Regions from separate parts of the Homo sapiens genome. Here region 1 is linked to region 2. A link means that fine-mapping ties the variant in region 2 to the expression of a gene that starts in the linked region. Tissue or cell type: subcutaneous fat. Region 2 holds a variant in brackets; the other region holds the start of a gene. All regions are shown on one strand. Distances are between the middles of the regions. Region 1 holds the start of PPIL3 (peptidylprolyl isomerase like 3). Region 2 overlaps FLACC1 (flagellum associated containing coiled-coil domains 1).

Region 1 (8,295 bases), 460 kb before region 2:
TATCTACGTTCTCTTTGATCCACCTTTGACATTGGACAAATAAGTGGAAATCAGGCCAGAAGTTAGGATGGCTAGTTTTCCCTAACAATGGTTTTACAGAAAGTTTTGTTGTTGTTATTTAGGTTAGATTATTCAATTCCAAAGTGCTTATCTTGTTGTATTAACTGATGTTGAATATGTAAATAATAGTACTTACCTCACATGTTTTGGGTGTCCTCTCACAGAAGACTTCAATTTTAATATCACCTACATCTGTATGCAGTGTCACAGACTAAAAAGGAGAGAAAATGTGAGAACAAATGAAATTTATTTAGGTGACTTTATGCATTGTTTATTTCCCTGTGTGGATATTCAAGATGATAATCTGAATAAAAACAGACAGAAATACTGCTTCAGAGATGACCCATCCACAAAGCAGCTCTTAGAGGTTAAGTTGTACTTTTTTCTCAAAATTGATCCCAACAGTAGAGAAAAAACTCCAGAATATAAATGTTAGGGTTAAGTAGTATCCATGACAAAAATTTGGAAGTAAATATTTTGATGGAAAGAATTATTTTAACTTTGAATTTTTTATCAAGAAAAATAAAAACAATTGTTATGTATTATTGATGTACATGGCAATTCACCAACATCCTTATTTATAGAAAAATGATGAGAAAATGATTTTTCAAAACATAATTTCCACCATTTTCCTTAGGTAATTTAATTCTGAGAAATAGGGTTAAAAAATAATTCCTTTCTCGACTAACAAAAATATAACAAGTGTCAGTGTTTCTAAATCTTAAATGTGCAGAGATAACCACAGTGCTTTCTTGCTTGCTTTTTGTTTTTGTTGTACCTGTTTTTCTGTAACCTGTATACCCCTTGATATGATACTGTATTCCAGAGAGGGAGAAAACAATTTGGAGGGTTCCTTTTTCATTTCTCCTTTTTTTTTTTTTTGAGGTGGAGTCTTGCTCTGTCGCCCACACTGGAGTGCAGTGGCGTGATCTCGGCTCACTACAATCTCCACCTCCTGCGTTCAAGCAATTCTCCTGCCTCAGCCTCCCAAGTAGCTGGGATTACTGGGATATGCCACAACACCCAGATAATTTTTGTATTTTTAGTAGAGACAGGGTTTCACCATGTTGGCCAGGCTGGTCTCGAACTCCTGACCTCAAGTGATTGGCCCACCTCTGCCTCCCAAAGTGCCGAGATTACAGGCGTGAGCCACCGCGCCTGGCCTAGCAGTTAGAGAGTATGAGCAGGTTAAAGATGTGTGTGGGAGAAGCAGGGCACTATTCTCATTGCCTTTTTCTACTTCAGGTTCTAGTTGCCCACTTTATTTAATTGTTTTTTTAAAAGTAGAGACGGGGGCCTCACTGTGTTGCCCAAGCTGGTGTTGAACTCCTGGGATCAAGCAGTCCTCTCACCTCCGCCTCCCAAAGTGCTGGGATCACAGGTGTCAGCCACTGTGCCCAGCCTAGTTGCCCACTTTAGATCTAGAGCAAAATAATCCAATTAAAATTGTCAGACCTGTCTATTCTCTTCTGCTCCTTCAACTCTCCCTTTCCATTTCTATCTATCTTGTAATCAATCTTTCTCCATAAAAGGTAAATTCTGGCTGGGCGAGTTGGCTCACGCCTGTAATTCCAACACTTTGGGAGGTCAAGGCAGGCAGATCACCTGAGGTCAGGAGTTCGAGACCAGTCTGCCCAAAATGGCGAAACCCCATCTCTACTAAAAATACAAAAAATTAGCTGGGCGTGGTGGCAGGCGCGTGTAATCTCAGCTACCGGGGAGGCTAAGGCAGGAGAATCGCTTGAACCCAGGGGCAGAGGCTGCAGTGAGCCGAGATTACACCACTGCACTCCAGCCTGGGAGACAAGAGTGAAACTCAAAAAAAAAAAAAAAAAAAAAGGTAAATTCTGTGCATTTTAAGTGACAACATTAAAGAATTTTAAAGCAATTTTGTGTATTTTTTAAAAGAATTATTCCATATTAAGTGCTTCTATATTATACAATTTCTCCATCTTGCCACTGCAATTTCCATGAACTTTTATTGCCCTTGACTGAATTTCTAAAAATTACTTATAATGAAAGACATTAGATAAAAATTGCTCAAAACTTACCATTTTTCCTCTTAGTGGTTTCAGGAAGGACTACGTGATTTCTCAGTCTTACAGCGAGCTCAAAAATAAGTCTCTAGTCCCAAAAGAAAAAAAGAATTAGGCTCATTTTCCTGTCTTAACTCACACACGCTCATCTTTACTGAACATTTTAAATAAAAACCTCGCCGGGCGTGGTGGCTCACGCCTATAATCCTAACACTTTGGGAGGCCGAGGCGGGTGGATCACTTGAGGTCAGGAGTTCGAGACCAGCCTGGCCAACATGGCGAAACCCCGTCTCTACTAAAAACACAAAAATTAGCCGGGTGTGGTGGCAGGCGCCTGTAGTCCTAGCTACTCAGCAGGCTGCGGCAGGAGAATCACTTGAACCCAGGAGGCGGAGGCTGCAGTGAGCTGAGATCGCGCCACTGCACTCCAGCCTGGGTGACAGCGCGAGACTCCGTCAAAAAAAAAAAAAAAAAAAATCCTCTAATGGCATCCCCTAGGTAATAAAAACCCGGCTATAGAAGATATCCTACCCGATTCAAGCCTCCCAATCTCCTACTTGCCCGGCTTGCTCTTCTTCAAGAGCCTCCTTGCAAGTCCCCCAATAACCCAGATACCTTCCCTTAGGGTCCAGGCATTGGGTGTCCCTTTTGCCTGGAATTCTTATACTCAGACATCTCTACGGCTAATTTCCTCACCTCCAAATTTCTGCTTAAATGTCAAGTTTAACTGACCTGACAATCCTACACAGAACTGCTTTAGCCCTTCAGCCCTAGGACATTCCTATTTCCTTCTCCCACAGCACTTATCACTAATATACTATGAAATTCGCTTTTTTTTTTTTTCACCACAGCACTTATACTAATATACTATGAACTTTTTTTTTTCCACCACAGCACTTATCACTAATATACTATGAACTTCTCTTTTTTTTTCATTTTGAGACGGAGTCTCGCTATGTCGCCAGGCTGGAGTGCAGTGCGGCAGGATCTCGGCTCACTGCAACCTCCGCCTCCGCCTCCCGGGTTCAAGTGATTGTCGTGTCTCAGCCTCCCGAGTAGGTGGGACTACAGGCGCGCGCTACCATGCACGACTAATTTTTGTATTTTTAGTAGAGACGGGGTTTCGCCGTGTTGGCCAGGCTGGTCTCGAACTCCTGACTTCAGGTGATCCGCCCGCCTCGGCCTCCCGAAGTGCTGGGAGGCCGCCGTGCAGGGTCCTTCTTTTACTCTGACGTTGCAACAACAGCCTCGCCGCCCACTGTTCACTCGCAGTATCCCAAGAACTAAACCAGTAGCAACACAGAACTCAGCAAGCATTCGAATAAGTGAATGAAAGAATTAATGACGTTACTCCATACTTGGGCTTCACCACTTCGTCTAGCACAGCCGTTGTTAAAACAGGAAAAATGCAATCGCAGATGCCAGCAGAGGTCTGTTGGTTCAAAATTATAGTTTCTTTGGGCCAGCGGAAGTTGGGCGCGGGACCCAAGAGAGAGAACGCCCCTTACCGCCTCACCTCCTTCCTCCCCTCATCTTCCTATCTCAAACCAAAACGACAATGCAATTTATCCCCAACCGGAAATTTGACAGTGAAAGGGAGCTCTACTAATAATTGCACTGGGACAAGAAGTGTAAGGCGAAACTACCTGGGCAACCTCAAGCAATGCTTTACACTCGGCTGCCAAACGGAAAGGACCACTTCCGCCCAGCTCTCCCGCTACGGGGAGCCAAGTGCCACAGCATCCGGAGCGCCGACGCGGGACCGGAAGTGACGCAGAGAAGTTTCCGGGACTGGTGAGTAGTGGGCGATTTAAAAACCCGCGAGTGTAGTTGTGACCTTCGCGGTAGGTGCCGGTTGGGGCCGGCTGTGATTGTTATCTTGGTGCTGCAGAGGACAGCAGAAGAGGAGATTGGGTCAGAAAACTGCCCTGCCGCACCAGAGCACAGCGCACTAGTGGGACAGGGGTCCTGACTCAGACTTAACTGGCTGTGTCTCGTGGTTTTTCACTGTCCTGGAAAAGGCCTGAAGTGGCACTGAAATGAGGCATAGATGAGGTAACGTCGAGGGAGCGGTTTGCAGGTTGCAAAGGGGCCCTACTGATGCTGCTTAATAGTAAACAGTGCTTACTCTAGGACGGGAGTTGTTTCCAGCTTTACGTGTAAATCTCGCGATATTGTGGCCTGGGCACTATTTCCATTAAGGAGGAAACTGCACAGGATAAGTCATTTACCTGCTGTTGCACAGCTCTGGCTCTAGGATTCAGGCTGGCTTCAGAGTCGGTGCTCTTAACCGCCATACTATGTTGCCTTCTGTTGTCGTTGTTGACTGTGGCCATGTAGCTTCGCAGTTTCCTCATCTGTAACAGTAAATAACTCAAAACCTGCATGATGGCCCACTAGGGTTTCACTTTCGAGCTTGCCAGATGTAGAAAATGCTGGAGAATGGAGTACTATGAGGACCATTAGAAGATCTTTCAAGGCCGGACGCAGTGGCTCACCCCTGTAATCCCGGTACTCTTGGAGGCCGAGGCAGGTGGATCACTTGAGCGCAGGAGTTTGAGACCAGCCTGGGCAACATGGCGAATCCCCATCTCTACTAAAAATACAAAAATTAGCCAGGTGTGGTGTTTAGCGCCTGTAGTCCCAGCTGCTCAGGAGGCTGAGGTGGGAGGATCTGCTTGAGCTCAGGAAGTCGAGGCTGCAGTGAGCTGAGATCACGCCACTGCACTCCAGCCTAGGCGCCTAGTGAAACCCTGTGTCAAAAAGAAAAAAACAAAAACAAACTTCCAAGACCTCGAGTGGTTTTTGGAGACCCTGTATCACTTCAAATAATGTGTTAAACAAGCATCTTCATCTCATTAAATAGAAATGTTGAAAAATTGCTTTTGGAATAATTGACTTATGGATATTTCATCAAATTTACAGTTGGCTATGCTTTCTTATTGTGCATACTATGAAATGTTTTTCTTCAAAAAGTGTTTATAAGTGGTAAGTTTAAGAATGGGGTTGACAGCATTATCTTTTGTGGTTATTTGATTAAACATTTACTAATTGTGCATATTTTGGAGCCAGCAGTTTTTTTCTACCTTTCCATTGCCCTCCCACCTTCCCTCTGTTGCCAACCTTTTCAGTTCCTTGTTGGATGTAGATACTTAGAAGGCTTACAGGCTGTCTGGGAAAAGTACCCTATACCTTATCCCCTCCCACCTCTTGAGCCTGGCCTTTGTGTAGCAAATGTTGCTTAAGGGGCAGTGGCTTCTCCCTTCTTCTGCCTTGACCCTGCCCATTTATAGAGTGACCTGCCTATGTATTCCTTGATTTTTGATTCTGATAAAGCACTTGACATTTTAAACATTCTTTTTTTTTTTTTTTTTCTTTTTGAGACGGAGTGTTGCTCTCTCGCCAGGCTGGAGTGCTGTGGCATGATCTTGGCTCACTGCAACCTCCGCCTCCCAGGTTCAAGTGATTCTCCTGCGTCAGCCTCCCGAGTAGCTGGGACTACAGGTGCACACCACCATGCCCAGCTAATTTTTGTATTTTTAGTAGAGACGGTTTCACCACGTTGGCCAGGATAGTCTTTATCTCTTGACTTTGTGATCCTCCCGCCTCGGCCTCCCAAAGTGCTGGGATTACAGGCGCCCCGCCACATTATTCTGTTTTTTGGTAAAGCACATTGTAATGCCAGTATATACCACCCCAACTCCAAATTCTGTTGCAATCAGGGGAGGCGGGCAGTGTCATTCTATGCAGTAAGCATTTAGTGCTGGCTTATATTAGTGATACTGAGATTTATTGAAGTTAGTTCCTATTACATAGTAGCTTTAGCATAATGGGCACACACAGAATTATGAGAATACTGAGGGGTGGGGAGCCTTGGGAAGGATGCTGAAAAGGGAGGTCAAGAAAAGTTTTATTTAAGAAGTTGGAGGGGGCTTGGGAAAAGGAAAGGTAATATTTAGAGAAATGGATTAGGGAGGAGGTTGGTTGAAGCAAGGGTAGGGAGAATAAGAACAAGGGTGTGCAAGGCAGGAGATGGGATGGACGTTTGTGTATTATGTACCAGGCTTTGCTAGGTTACATAATTCATTAGCTCCTCTGGATGGCCTGTGAAGTGGGTTATAGTATCTCTGTTTCGTAGGTGAGAAAACAAGATTGGAGAGGTTAAATGGCTTACCTAAGTTACAGTGTGCTGGTAAGTGGCAGAGCCACTATTTGAACCCAGATCTCTATGACGACAGCTCTTTTGCCCATATGTTTTGATGCCTCAAAGATCCAGGCCTAAAGTATACCTGTGTACCATTTTCTTTGTTTTGACATCAGAAACTTGAACTTTACCTGATTTCTGTATGTTGTCATCTTGCGTACGCCCAGTCCCCACGACAGTCCGGTTTGTAGATTCCCTGATCTGCAATTCTTCCCGTTCCTTCATGGATTTGAAGGCTCTCCTTTCTTCCTTGAATGACTTTGCATCCCTCTCGTTTGCTGAGAGTTGGGACAATGTTGGATTACTGGTGGAACCAAGCCCACCACATACTGTAAATACACTCTTCCTGACCAATGACCTGACTGAGGAAGTGATGGAGGAGGTGCTGCAAAAGAAGGCAGACCTCATTCTCTCCTACCATCCGCCTATCTTCCGACCCATGAAGCGCATAACCTGGAACACATGGAAGGAGCGCCTGGTGATCCGGGCTCTGGAGAACAGAGTCGGTATCTACTCTCCTCATACAGCCTATGATGCTGCGCCCCAGGGCGTCAACAACTGGTTGGCTAAAGGGCTTGGTGAGAAGCCTCTTTCATATTTGATATTTTCCCTGCAAATACTTTGAAACTTTAGGATGTCTTTCCAGTAAAGTTTTAACTGCTTTAGGGTTGGGGAGGGCATGATTCCATTTTTATATAATAATTTTAAAATAATGTTGCTGAAATTTGGCAGTTAAATTGCATTTGAAAAAGGAAACATTTTTTATTCTTATGGAGTAAGGAGAGCAGAAGTCTTCCTTACTGGACTGAGCTTCATGATTCCTCACTTTTGTGGCACAATGCCTGTCACCCAGGCACTTGGAAAATGCTTGTTGAATTGAAAGCTCAGGCCTCTCCAGAATACACTTGATTGATAAGTCAAGTAAATAGACATCAGGGTTTTAATGAATGTTTTTAGTGAATGTTTACTTATGCCTAGCACAATGAGGGAATGATGGATGGATTTTAGCTTTATTTTAGTAAGTCTTTAGTTTACTCATTTTGGGCTAAAGCTTTTATGATGATATCTGGATTAATGTGGTCAAATAAAGTATGAGCATTTGCAACCTGAATGATGGTTTACATGGCTAGATTTACCAAGCAGTAGACCATTCTGTGTATTATCTGAAAATGTATGAATCAGTCTTTCTTGTCCAAGTTTTTCAGAGATTTAAGAATCTTTTGGAAAATAATTCTGAAAATAATTTGATTTTGTATGTCCATGCCAAAGCCCTAGATTATGGGGACTGGTGATGTATATCTAAGGGATGTGTGTATGTTATGTAAGCATGAGAATGAATCTTTTTAAAAAGTCATTTCTTAGAAATTTTGCCTATAATAGTTTACTTTTAAATCTTAATCTCTCACCCCCCAAAACTCCCATTTTCCCACAATATTTTCTCTAGGAGCTTGTACCTCCAGGCCCATACATCCTTCCAAAGCTCCCAACTACCCTACAGAGGGAAACCACCGAGTAGAATTCAACGTTAACTACACCCAAGACCTGGACAAAGTCATGTCTGCAGTGAAAGGAATTGACGGTGTTTCTGTCACTTCTTTTTCTGCTAGGTACAATTTATTTTTCTCTTTTTTTTGTGTGTATTTATTGGTAAGCATCTTCCTTACAAAGTCTATAACCCTGGTATTTAGGCTTGAAACAAATAGTTTTCTCTGGAGTTGATTTACAAAGTAGCATACTCCTCATTTGTTTGTGGGTCCTGGAGAACTATGGAATTTTTTCAAAACAATAAAAACGGTAAGTAACACTAAGTATTTTCTATGTCAGGGGACTATACTATGCATTTTACCTACAGTATTTCTAATCCTGGTAATGTTCAAAGATAGTTGTTTTTACTTTAGAGAATACAGATAGATCCTAGTGATGTGGTGATAAGGCTTTTATTGGTTCCCAGCAAATCAGTGATTCCCAAGTGCTTTTTTATATTTATCTTTACAT
Region 2 (8,332 bases):
CTTGGCATTTTGCCTGGCACATAGGTGATTCAAAAATATTAATTTTATTTTGTCCATGAAGATGTTAGCTAATGTAAGGTCACTCACCAATTTCTGGGCAGACTGGTGGTCTCTGTTCATTTGTTCAATTATTGCTGTCAGCTCTGAGATTTGCTCTTCTAGGTCAGAAATGATGTTGGTCCTGTAGGAGAAGTAATTCTTCTATCATCCACAAAGCTTACCATTCCATGCCATTCAGGCCCCTGAGCATGACTGACTCTGGCATGGTGAGAGCTGGCCTGGTGAGAGCTGGCCATGTTCTGCACCTGCTCTATCATTATGGGGTGGGGGTGGAGGGATAGGGGTGGTCTTACAGAAGGCATTTGGCTATAGGGCAGTTGAGGCTCAGATCTGGCTCTTGTGGGTAAGCTCACTAGACTTGAACAGGATGGTTTGGTGCCCTACCGAATAGAAGGAAAATAAGAATATGTCAGAAATTTATTAGAGTTTGACCTTGATTTGGTAATGATAGTTGAAACAGAGGACGAAGTTCAGAGGATTAGGAAATTAGAAGATGTGCAATAGGATTGATGCTGGCTGTGAACCACAGACAAGGATTGGGCCAGAGATGGGACTAAGAGGGTATTTAAGAGAGTGGCTTTCAGCACAGGTCATGGTTTTCTGTGTTTCTGGGTCTAAGGCTGCCATGGTATCTGTAAATTATTTAGCTCTGTCTGGTTGGGCTAGAGTGACAAGGCAGCAGGTGGTGCCATGTGCAGTGGAGCTGAGAGGAAGTCCTCAATGCAAGATGCTTTGACCTCTTTGGCCAACCACTTTGCATGTCTAACTGAGCACAGAGAGAATGTGGGCTGATAAAACAAGAGAGGAGATACAGGAGGAGACAGTTCAAGGGTAAGAGAAAGAAAAGGCTTGAGAAAGTTGAATAATAGGGAGCCCCTATCTTTTGAACACAATCTTCAATACAAACAACACCCACAACTTTACCAGGGAATACAACAAGCACAGGTTATCATATTTTATTGTGCACAACTGGTGACAACTTCCTTGTGAGGCCAAGAGGTGGCTGTCGGTGCTAGCTTGACTATAGGTGCATGACCCATTCTCTTCCTGCAGAGGGCTGTGGATAAGCAGGGAAAAGAAAGCAGAGGCTGAATGCCCCTGGGTGGGAAGACAAGATAAGCAGGGTGAATGCCCCTGGCCCCTGGGTGGCCCTCTGGGCCAGGTCAGATCAGGGAGACTCCATGGCATGGCCTCATTCTACTTGAGGGGCCTTCAGACTCACCCTCAACCTGAATCCCTTCCCCAGATGTAACCACTGCTAACGGTTTGGTTGAATTCTGCCAATACACTAGCAGATAGGTAGATGATTGTGTGTGTGTGTGTGTGTGTGTGTGTGTGTGTGTATGTGTGTGTGTGTTTTCTATTGTTGGTCTTTTAGACTTGTGTGTTGAAAAAATAATTCTTACAGCAAAATCAGCCTGAGGGAAGAGGCACTTGGAGAGCCATTCAGTAGTGCAGTTAAGAAGTAAGATGCCTGAACATGGGCAGGATATCAGAGAAGAAGATATGAATAAGAGATTAAAGGGTAGAATGAAAAGATGTAGAGATGAATCTGCATCTGTTAATGAAAAAAGAAAGACATGGAGATATACTTGATATGGCATTGGAGGACAGAGAGTGGGTGGAGCCTGAAGACAGACAGGACAGCTGTGCTAATGGGTTAGAGTCAGGCCAGAACCTTCCACACTGCATCTCCCGGGGGCATGAGCTGAGTAGTATTTTTGGACATAATGAAAAAGAGGCTGGGCGCAGTGGCTCACGCCTATAATCCCAGCACTTTGGGAGGCTGAGGCCAGAGGATTACCTGAGGTCAGGAGTTTGAGAACAGCCTGGCTAATATGGCAAAATCCCATCTCTACTAAAGCTATAAATATTAGCCGGGCGTCATGGTGCAAGCCTGTAATCCTAGCTACTCAAGAGGTTGAGGCGTGAGAATAGCTTAAACCTGGGAGGCAGAAGTTGCAGTGAGCTGAGATCGTGCCACTAAACTCCAGCCTGGGTGGCAGAGAGAGACTCTGTCTCAAAAAAAAAAGTGCACTCCAGCCACCCAGAAACCCTCACTTTACTTAATTTGCATGCCTCAAATTCAGACTAATTTATGGCTATTCTATCTATTCCTCACCCCACGAACAATTGCTATCCTTTGGGATCAATCACATAACTCCCAATCTTCATCCTGCCCCTTGGATCTGCTCACGGATGGGATCAGAGCAGAGAGGCAGATGTGGAGAGATGCATCATCAGGAAGCAGGGGCGAGGAGGGAGGTGCCCTTGCGGCCCCTCCAGAGCAGGGACCAGTGGCCTGGGTGTGGGCATAGCGGCTTTGGCTTGTCCCTGAGGCCGGGCTGAGCTGGGTGGGAGTAGCCCCAAGCAGCTGCATGTTGCTGCAACAGCATTACCTGGAAAATCTGCCTTTGTCCGGGATCTCCGATTCCCACCGCTTTTTCCTATCAAACATCTCATCCCCTAAGGTGACAGAAATCTGTTCCCGATTCCGAACAAGTTGATAGCCAGGTGACACGTTGATCACTTCCTAGGCATCAAGGGAAAGTAAGATAAAATGGCAGACTTGGAGTGCTGAGATTTTTCCAAATCTTCTCTTATTGCCTCACTCACATCTTAAAAACAGGGACCTGGGACTCCACAGCCCAAGCCCTTCTGGGCCCTTCACCCATTATAGCTCATTCTCACATCTCTCCGACTCAAATCTGATGCTTAGCAGGCTCCTGGGTGTCCCTAGGGGCCTCTCAAGCTCTGCGCCAAACCAAGCCACTGATGCCCCTGCCCCCGACTTGTGTTCACCCTCGTGGCCAGAGCCCAGAGGAGGTGGGCATGCGGCAACTGCTCGGGTTTTGGAATCACAGAGGCCTGAGTAAATCTTGGCTCTGCCACCAGACAGTAGCCATCCAGCATCTCTGTGCCTCAGTTTCCTTATCAGAAAGTGGGGTTAATAACTCTTTCTCAAAGGGCTTTTGTGAGGGAAAAACAAAACAACATATGAGAAAATGACTAGGACGGTTGCAAACAAAATGTCATTTCCTCCTCCTTTTCCCATTAGACGCCAAGTCAGAAACCTGGGCAGGGCCTCTGCTGGCCTGGACCAGGGCAAGGCTGGGGCTCTGAGAGCTGCGCAGCACATGCTGCAGCCCCTTGATCCCTGCTGTTGTCACCTCCTTCATGTCTCTGTGAGTCACCCTCCTCTCTCCACACCCCTGCCTGACGGCCCCAGGCCACCATCATCTTTCTCTTGGGCTCTGGCCTCTCTGCCTTCAGTCTTGCTCCCCCCACAGTTCATCCTCCTCTCTACCTAGAGGGCAATTATATTTTTGCTTGTATATTTTTTTCCCTAACCATTAAAGGACTGCATGGCTCTTTTCCCTGGCTCTTTTCCCAGCACCTGAAACAGTGCCTAATAAATAATAGGTGGTCAATAAATATTTTCCAAAAAAATTAATGGAATACAAAGATTCATACAAAGACCTAAAACTAAAAAACAAAA[C/CAAAA]AAAAAAAAGAAAGAAAAGAAACTAGATAAACACAGAAAACAGTAAAATGTACCGATTACATCCCACCAAAGGGTGCTTTTTCTGAAATGTAACTCTTACTTGGTCCTGTGCCTGCGTCAGACCAGTAAAGGCTCCCAGACACCAGAAGGGTCGGGCCCACACTCCCAGGCAGGCGTCAAGAGCCTTCGAGTTTGGTTCTCATCACCTTCTCCAGTGCCCTCCCGCCCCTGCTCCCCTGAGGGGTCCCGGCAGCCTCTCCCCAGCTTTCGTTAGTTCCCTAGGTCAGCAGAGCACTTCCTGCATCTAGGCATGAGCTGTTCACTGGCCTGGACTAGCTGTCATGTCCAGTTTCTCTGAGACACTCTGTTTGTCTTGTGCAAGGCAGGAGAGAGTGGCAATTAAATGCCCACTCTGGAATCTAGCTGAGCTGAGTTCAAGTCGTGGTTCTTCCACTTACCTGCCGTGCATAATGTGCAATATTAACAGCACCTCCTCCCAGGATCTTTGTGAAGATTCGACAAGGTAAGTATAAAAATGTAAAGGGCCCATGCTTGCACATAGTAGGCACTCAATAAATTTTAGTCCCACCGCCCTCTCCTGCCTTTACTCACATAAAATGATTTATTAGTCTCTTCTTGCCTTGCTGAATGGATTTTCATTCTGCAAGAGAAAGACATGCTCAGAAAGCAACCAGACAGCAAAGAGAAGTTCAAAGCTTAGGAGCTGAACCCTGAGGCCGCCACCATCTGACTTCTGCTCTCTGACCTGACCTTCTTAGGGGATCCCTAGGATAGTTGGGGAACTCACTGAAGCCGGGCTCCTGAGGGCCCCAAAGTAGGGGTGCTCATGAAAAGGTCCTGCCCAAGGAGGCAAAAGACTTGTCTTATGATGTTGGGGCAACTTCTGTTTTGGAGGAGCATAAACCAGCTAGAGGGACCCCTACATATTCTCCCTGAGTCAAGGCTCTGTGAGTCAGGTGACACCCCCCACCACCCCCTTACACACAAACGGGCACACACACACTCAGTTCAGGGAACTGTGTGGAACTCTCTTTATTGGAGAATGAAACATTCTATATAAACAAATGTTCCAGAAAATGAAATGTATCCCATTAAGATACAAATGTTGAAGTTAAACTTGTTTTTCATTCAAATCTTTATATATGCTATATATAAAATGAATACCACATATGTGTATATGTTCACAGTGGCCTTTCCCTCCAGCTCCAAAGCCAGCAGCAATTGCATCACTCCAACCTCTGCTTCTGTTGTCACAGCTCCTTCTCTGACTCTGACACTGTGACCTCCTCTTTCACATACAAAGAAGGACCTTTGTGATTACATGGGATCTGGGATAATCCAGGATAATCTCTCCAACTGAAGGTCAGCTGATTAGCAACCTTAATTCCATCTGCAGCCTTAATTCCTCTTTGGCAAGTAACATATTCACAGTCTCTGGGTATTAGGGTGTAGACGTCCTTGGGAGGGGGTCACTGTCCTGCCCACCACACCCATCACCTTGTTACCTTCTTTGAGCTCATCTCCCACCACTCCCTGCTCACTCGCTCCGCTCATGCCACACTGGCTTCTGCCTTCCTGGAAGAGGTCAGACATGCCAAGCAAGTTCCCACCCCAGGGCCTTTGGACTTGCTGGTCCCTCTGCCAAGAGTGCTTGCCCCAGGCATCATTGAGGCTCCTTTTGCCCCCTTTACACAGGCACTTGCCCTGACCTCTCTACGTAAAGTATCCCCACCGTCACAGCCCCTACCTGCTTTGCCTGCATCTTTTTTCTATGTAGCACTTGCCAACCTCGGATGTAATAACTAGTTTATGGTCCTCTTCCCCTTCCTTCCCCACTAGAATATAAGTGCCAGGAGAGTGGAGACTTTATTGTGTTTCTGGCTCTTTTCCCAGCACCTGAAACAGTGCCTAATAAATAATAGGTGGTCAATAAATATTTTCCAAAAAAATTAATGGAATACAAAGATTCATACAAAGACCTAAAACTAAGGTACATTTCTAAGCTTGTAAAATGCGAGTAAAAATTTTAATTTGTGATTAAAACCAAGATGCAACCCATAGAAAATCTTAGACACAGGACAGTAATCAGCTAAAGAGTGAGTCACCACCCTAAATGCACGGGAGGGTCGCCAAGGCTCTGTGACAATAGCACACATCAAGCTTTGGGCTCCAGGGCAGAAGACAGTTACTGGGGGCACCCCTGTGGAGAGCAGTGGATACAGTGACTTTGAATCAAACAATGCAATGACTTTGGAAGCTGTGGATGCAGAGGACCCCAAAATCTACATGTAGGATCTGAGGTTTGCAAGAAATCAAGGTCGATTCTGGCAATTCTCTAACATCCCTGGCATCAATTAGTTCAAGTCAGGCCAGGTGAGAGGGAGATTATTTTATTCACATGCCTGAAACCATTTCTGCCTCATGGACATAAAAATACTTAGGGCCAGGCACAGTGGCTCACGACTGTAATCCCAGCACTTTGAAGGCTGAGGAGGGCTGGTCACTTAAGGTCAGGAGTTCCAGACCAGCCTGGCCAACATGGTGAAACCCCGTCGTTACTACAAATACAAAAATTACGTGGGCATGGTAATGGGTGCCTGTAATCCCAGCTACTCAGGAGGCTAAGGCAGGAGAATCGTTTGAACCAGGGAGGTGGAGGTTGGAATGAGCCAAGATGGCACCACTGCGCTCCAGCCTGGGTGACAGAGCAAGACTCCATCTCAAACAAACAAACTGCTTGGTGCAGTGGCTCACACCTGTAATCCCAACACTTTGGGAGGCTCAGGCGGGTGGATTGCCTGAGTTCAGGAGTTCAAGACCACCCTGGGCAATGTGGTGAAACCCCGTCTCTACTAAAATACAAAAAAGTAGCCAGGCATGGTGGCGCGCACACCTGTATTCCCAGCTACTCGAGAGGCTGAGGCAGGAGAATCGCTTGAGACTGGGAGGCAGAGGTTGCAGTGAGCCAAGGTTACACCACTGCACTCTAGCCTGGGCAACAGAGTGAGACTCCATCTCAAAAACAAAACAAAACAAAACAATACTTACTTTGGGGAAACAACAGGTTTTGTTGGTTGGAGGTAATTGTGATTTTTTGGAGCTGGTACAAGAGGAGTTAGCCTGAAAGTGAAAAACAAATAACTAAAACAAGAACATTGGAAATTCGGAAACCCTTTTTAACACTCCCAGATTAAGTACATCCCTATAGTGACCCAAAATTGGAATGCATGATCTGATAGCTGGAATCTTTAAAATCTGAGGCCTTTAAAACTCAGGCCCAAGGCCCTGGCACTTGTTCACTGTCCCAGGAAGAGTTTGTCCCCCGATTCCCAAAGCTCTTTATCCCACATGAAGGCGGCAGCTGCCATCAGGGCCCTTTGGTTGGAAGCTGCACTTTGCCGTTGCACCAACACTGAGACTTCCTCATTTAAAATGGCACAAACCCCAGGCAGGGCTGGCAAGATGAGGGTGCAGCCAACCAGCTGGCAGGGAAGCTGGGGAAAGCGAGGCTTTCTGGCCCACCTGGGATTTTCCTGCCACACTTGCTGTTTTAGAAATCTTGTGAGAGAAATGAGGCTACAAATGGATCCCAAGGTCCCTGTGCCTACCCCATCCCAGATAATTCTTACTTGGAACTCCCTGTGGAGTTCTTGCGTGGTAGTTGAGGGGTCTTGATTAGCTTCCGTGGTCCCAAGTTCCAGGGGTCCCAGCAGGTGCAGTAGATGAGAGGGTTGGGGTACATGGCCAAAGGTCAGGGGGAGTCTTGGCTGCTAGATCAGGAGGCTCTTGCTGAAATTGAAAAACAACAGCAGAAGGTTAAACCATTTAGAATCAAAGCAAAAATACAGAAGAATTGGGAAGAACCCAGGGAGGACCCAAAGAACAATGGTAGATTCCAGAAGCTGTTGATCTGGTGCAGGGTCTTGACTATAGGTTAACAGCTCATCCCTTTCTACTCAGTAGACTTGACTTGAAAGCAATTTAAACTTTGCCATAACTGGCTGGGCATGGTGGCTCACGCCTGTAATCCCAGCACTTTGGGAGGCCGAGGTGGATGGATCACTTGAGGTCAGGAGTTTGAGACCAGCCTGGCCAACATGGTGAAACCCCGTCTCTACTGAAAATACAAAAATTAGCTGGGCATGGTGGCACACACCTATAGTCCCAGCTACTCAGGAGGCTGAGGTGGGAGGATTGCTTGAACCTGGGAGGCAGAGGTTGCAGTGAGCTGAGATTGTGCCACTGCACTCCAGCCTGGGTGAAGAGTGAGACTTCGTCTCAAAAAATAAAATAAGATACAAATAAAAATAAAACAAAATAATTAAAATAAAATAAAATTTGCCATAGCCGAGTCCTTGCTGTGAGCCAGGTAAAACTGCTCAATTATTGTTATGCTGATACTATAGATGAAGCTACTGAGACTCAGAGAAGTCACGGCGGCAGCAAGTTGCAGAGCTGGAAACAAACACAAATCTCTTTGACTCCCAAGCTCCTTCCTTTCCAGCAGGCCACACCAGTTCTCACTGAAGGGAAGAGAAATTCCCACAGCAAGTTCTGCACAGAACTTCCTGGAAAATTAGTTCTGCTGCTTGAGCTACAGTGCAAATGAATCTCCTCGTTTCTCATTCCTGGTCACCTTCTTGAATTACAGAGTGGAAACTCCTTCCCTGGCTCCCAAAAAACAAAACCCCTATTATGAGAATCTTGATGAAAGAAAACTATCAGATAAACATGGTGGCTTGACCACACTGG

What was found. PIP is the estimated chance that this variant, and not a neighbour inherited with it, causes the effect. A credible set is the group of variants that fine-mapping cannot tell apart.
Region 1: it holds the start of PPIL3, and the variant in region 2 is the best candidate, but not a certain one, in a credible set for the expression of PPIL3 in subcutaneous fat (TwinsUK, PIP 0.65).

Annotation. Positions count from the first base shown.
Region 1 is chr2:200,885,502-200,893,796 of GRCh38, forward strand. It overlaps PPIL3 (peptidylprolyl isomerase like 3), which reads right to left and starts at 3,576. Exons shown (of 7, transcript NM_130906.3): 1 at 3,455-3,576; 2 at 2,112-2,184; 3 at 197-271. The coding sequence starts at 2,114. It overlaps NIF3L1 (NGG1 interacting factor 3 like 1), which reads left to right and starts at 3,870. Exons shown (of 7, transcript NM_001369441.2): 1 at 3,870-4,151; 2 at 6,417-6,878; 3 at 7,745-7,907. The coding sequence starts at 6,443. RefSeq lists enhancers at 2,656-3,400, 3,094-3,143, 3,212-4,411, 3,264-3,513, 3,401-4,145 and 1 more.
Region 2 is chr2:201,344,083-201,352,414 of GRCh38, forward strand. FLACC1 (flagellum associated containing coiled-coil domains 1) reads right to left here. Exons shown (of 15, transcript NM_001127391.3): 2 at 7,210-7,369; 3 at 6,629-6,700; 4 at 4,172-4,220; 5 at 2,460-2,593; 6 at 88-181. The coding sequence starts at 7,322. Among named protein-coding and RNA genes, the nearest start is that of FLACC1, 9.1 kb to the right of the region's middle. The variant C/CAAAA (reference allele first, on the strand shown) is at 3,560.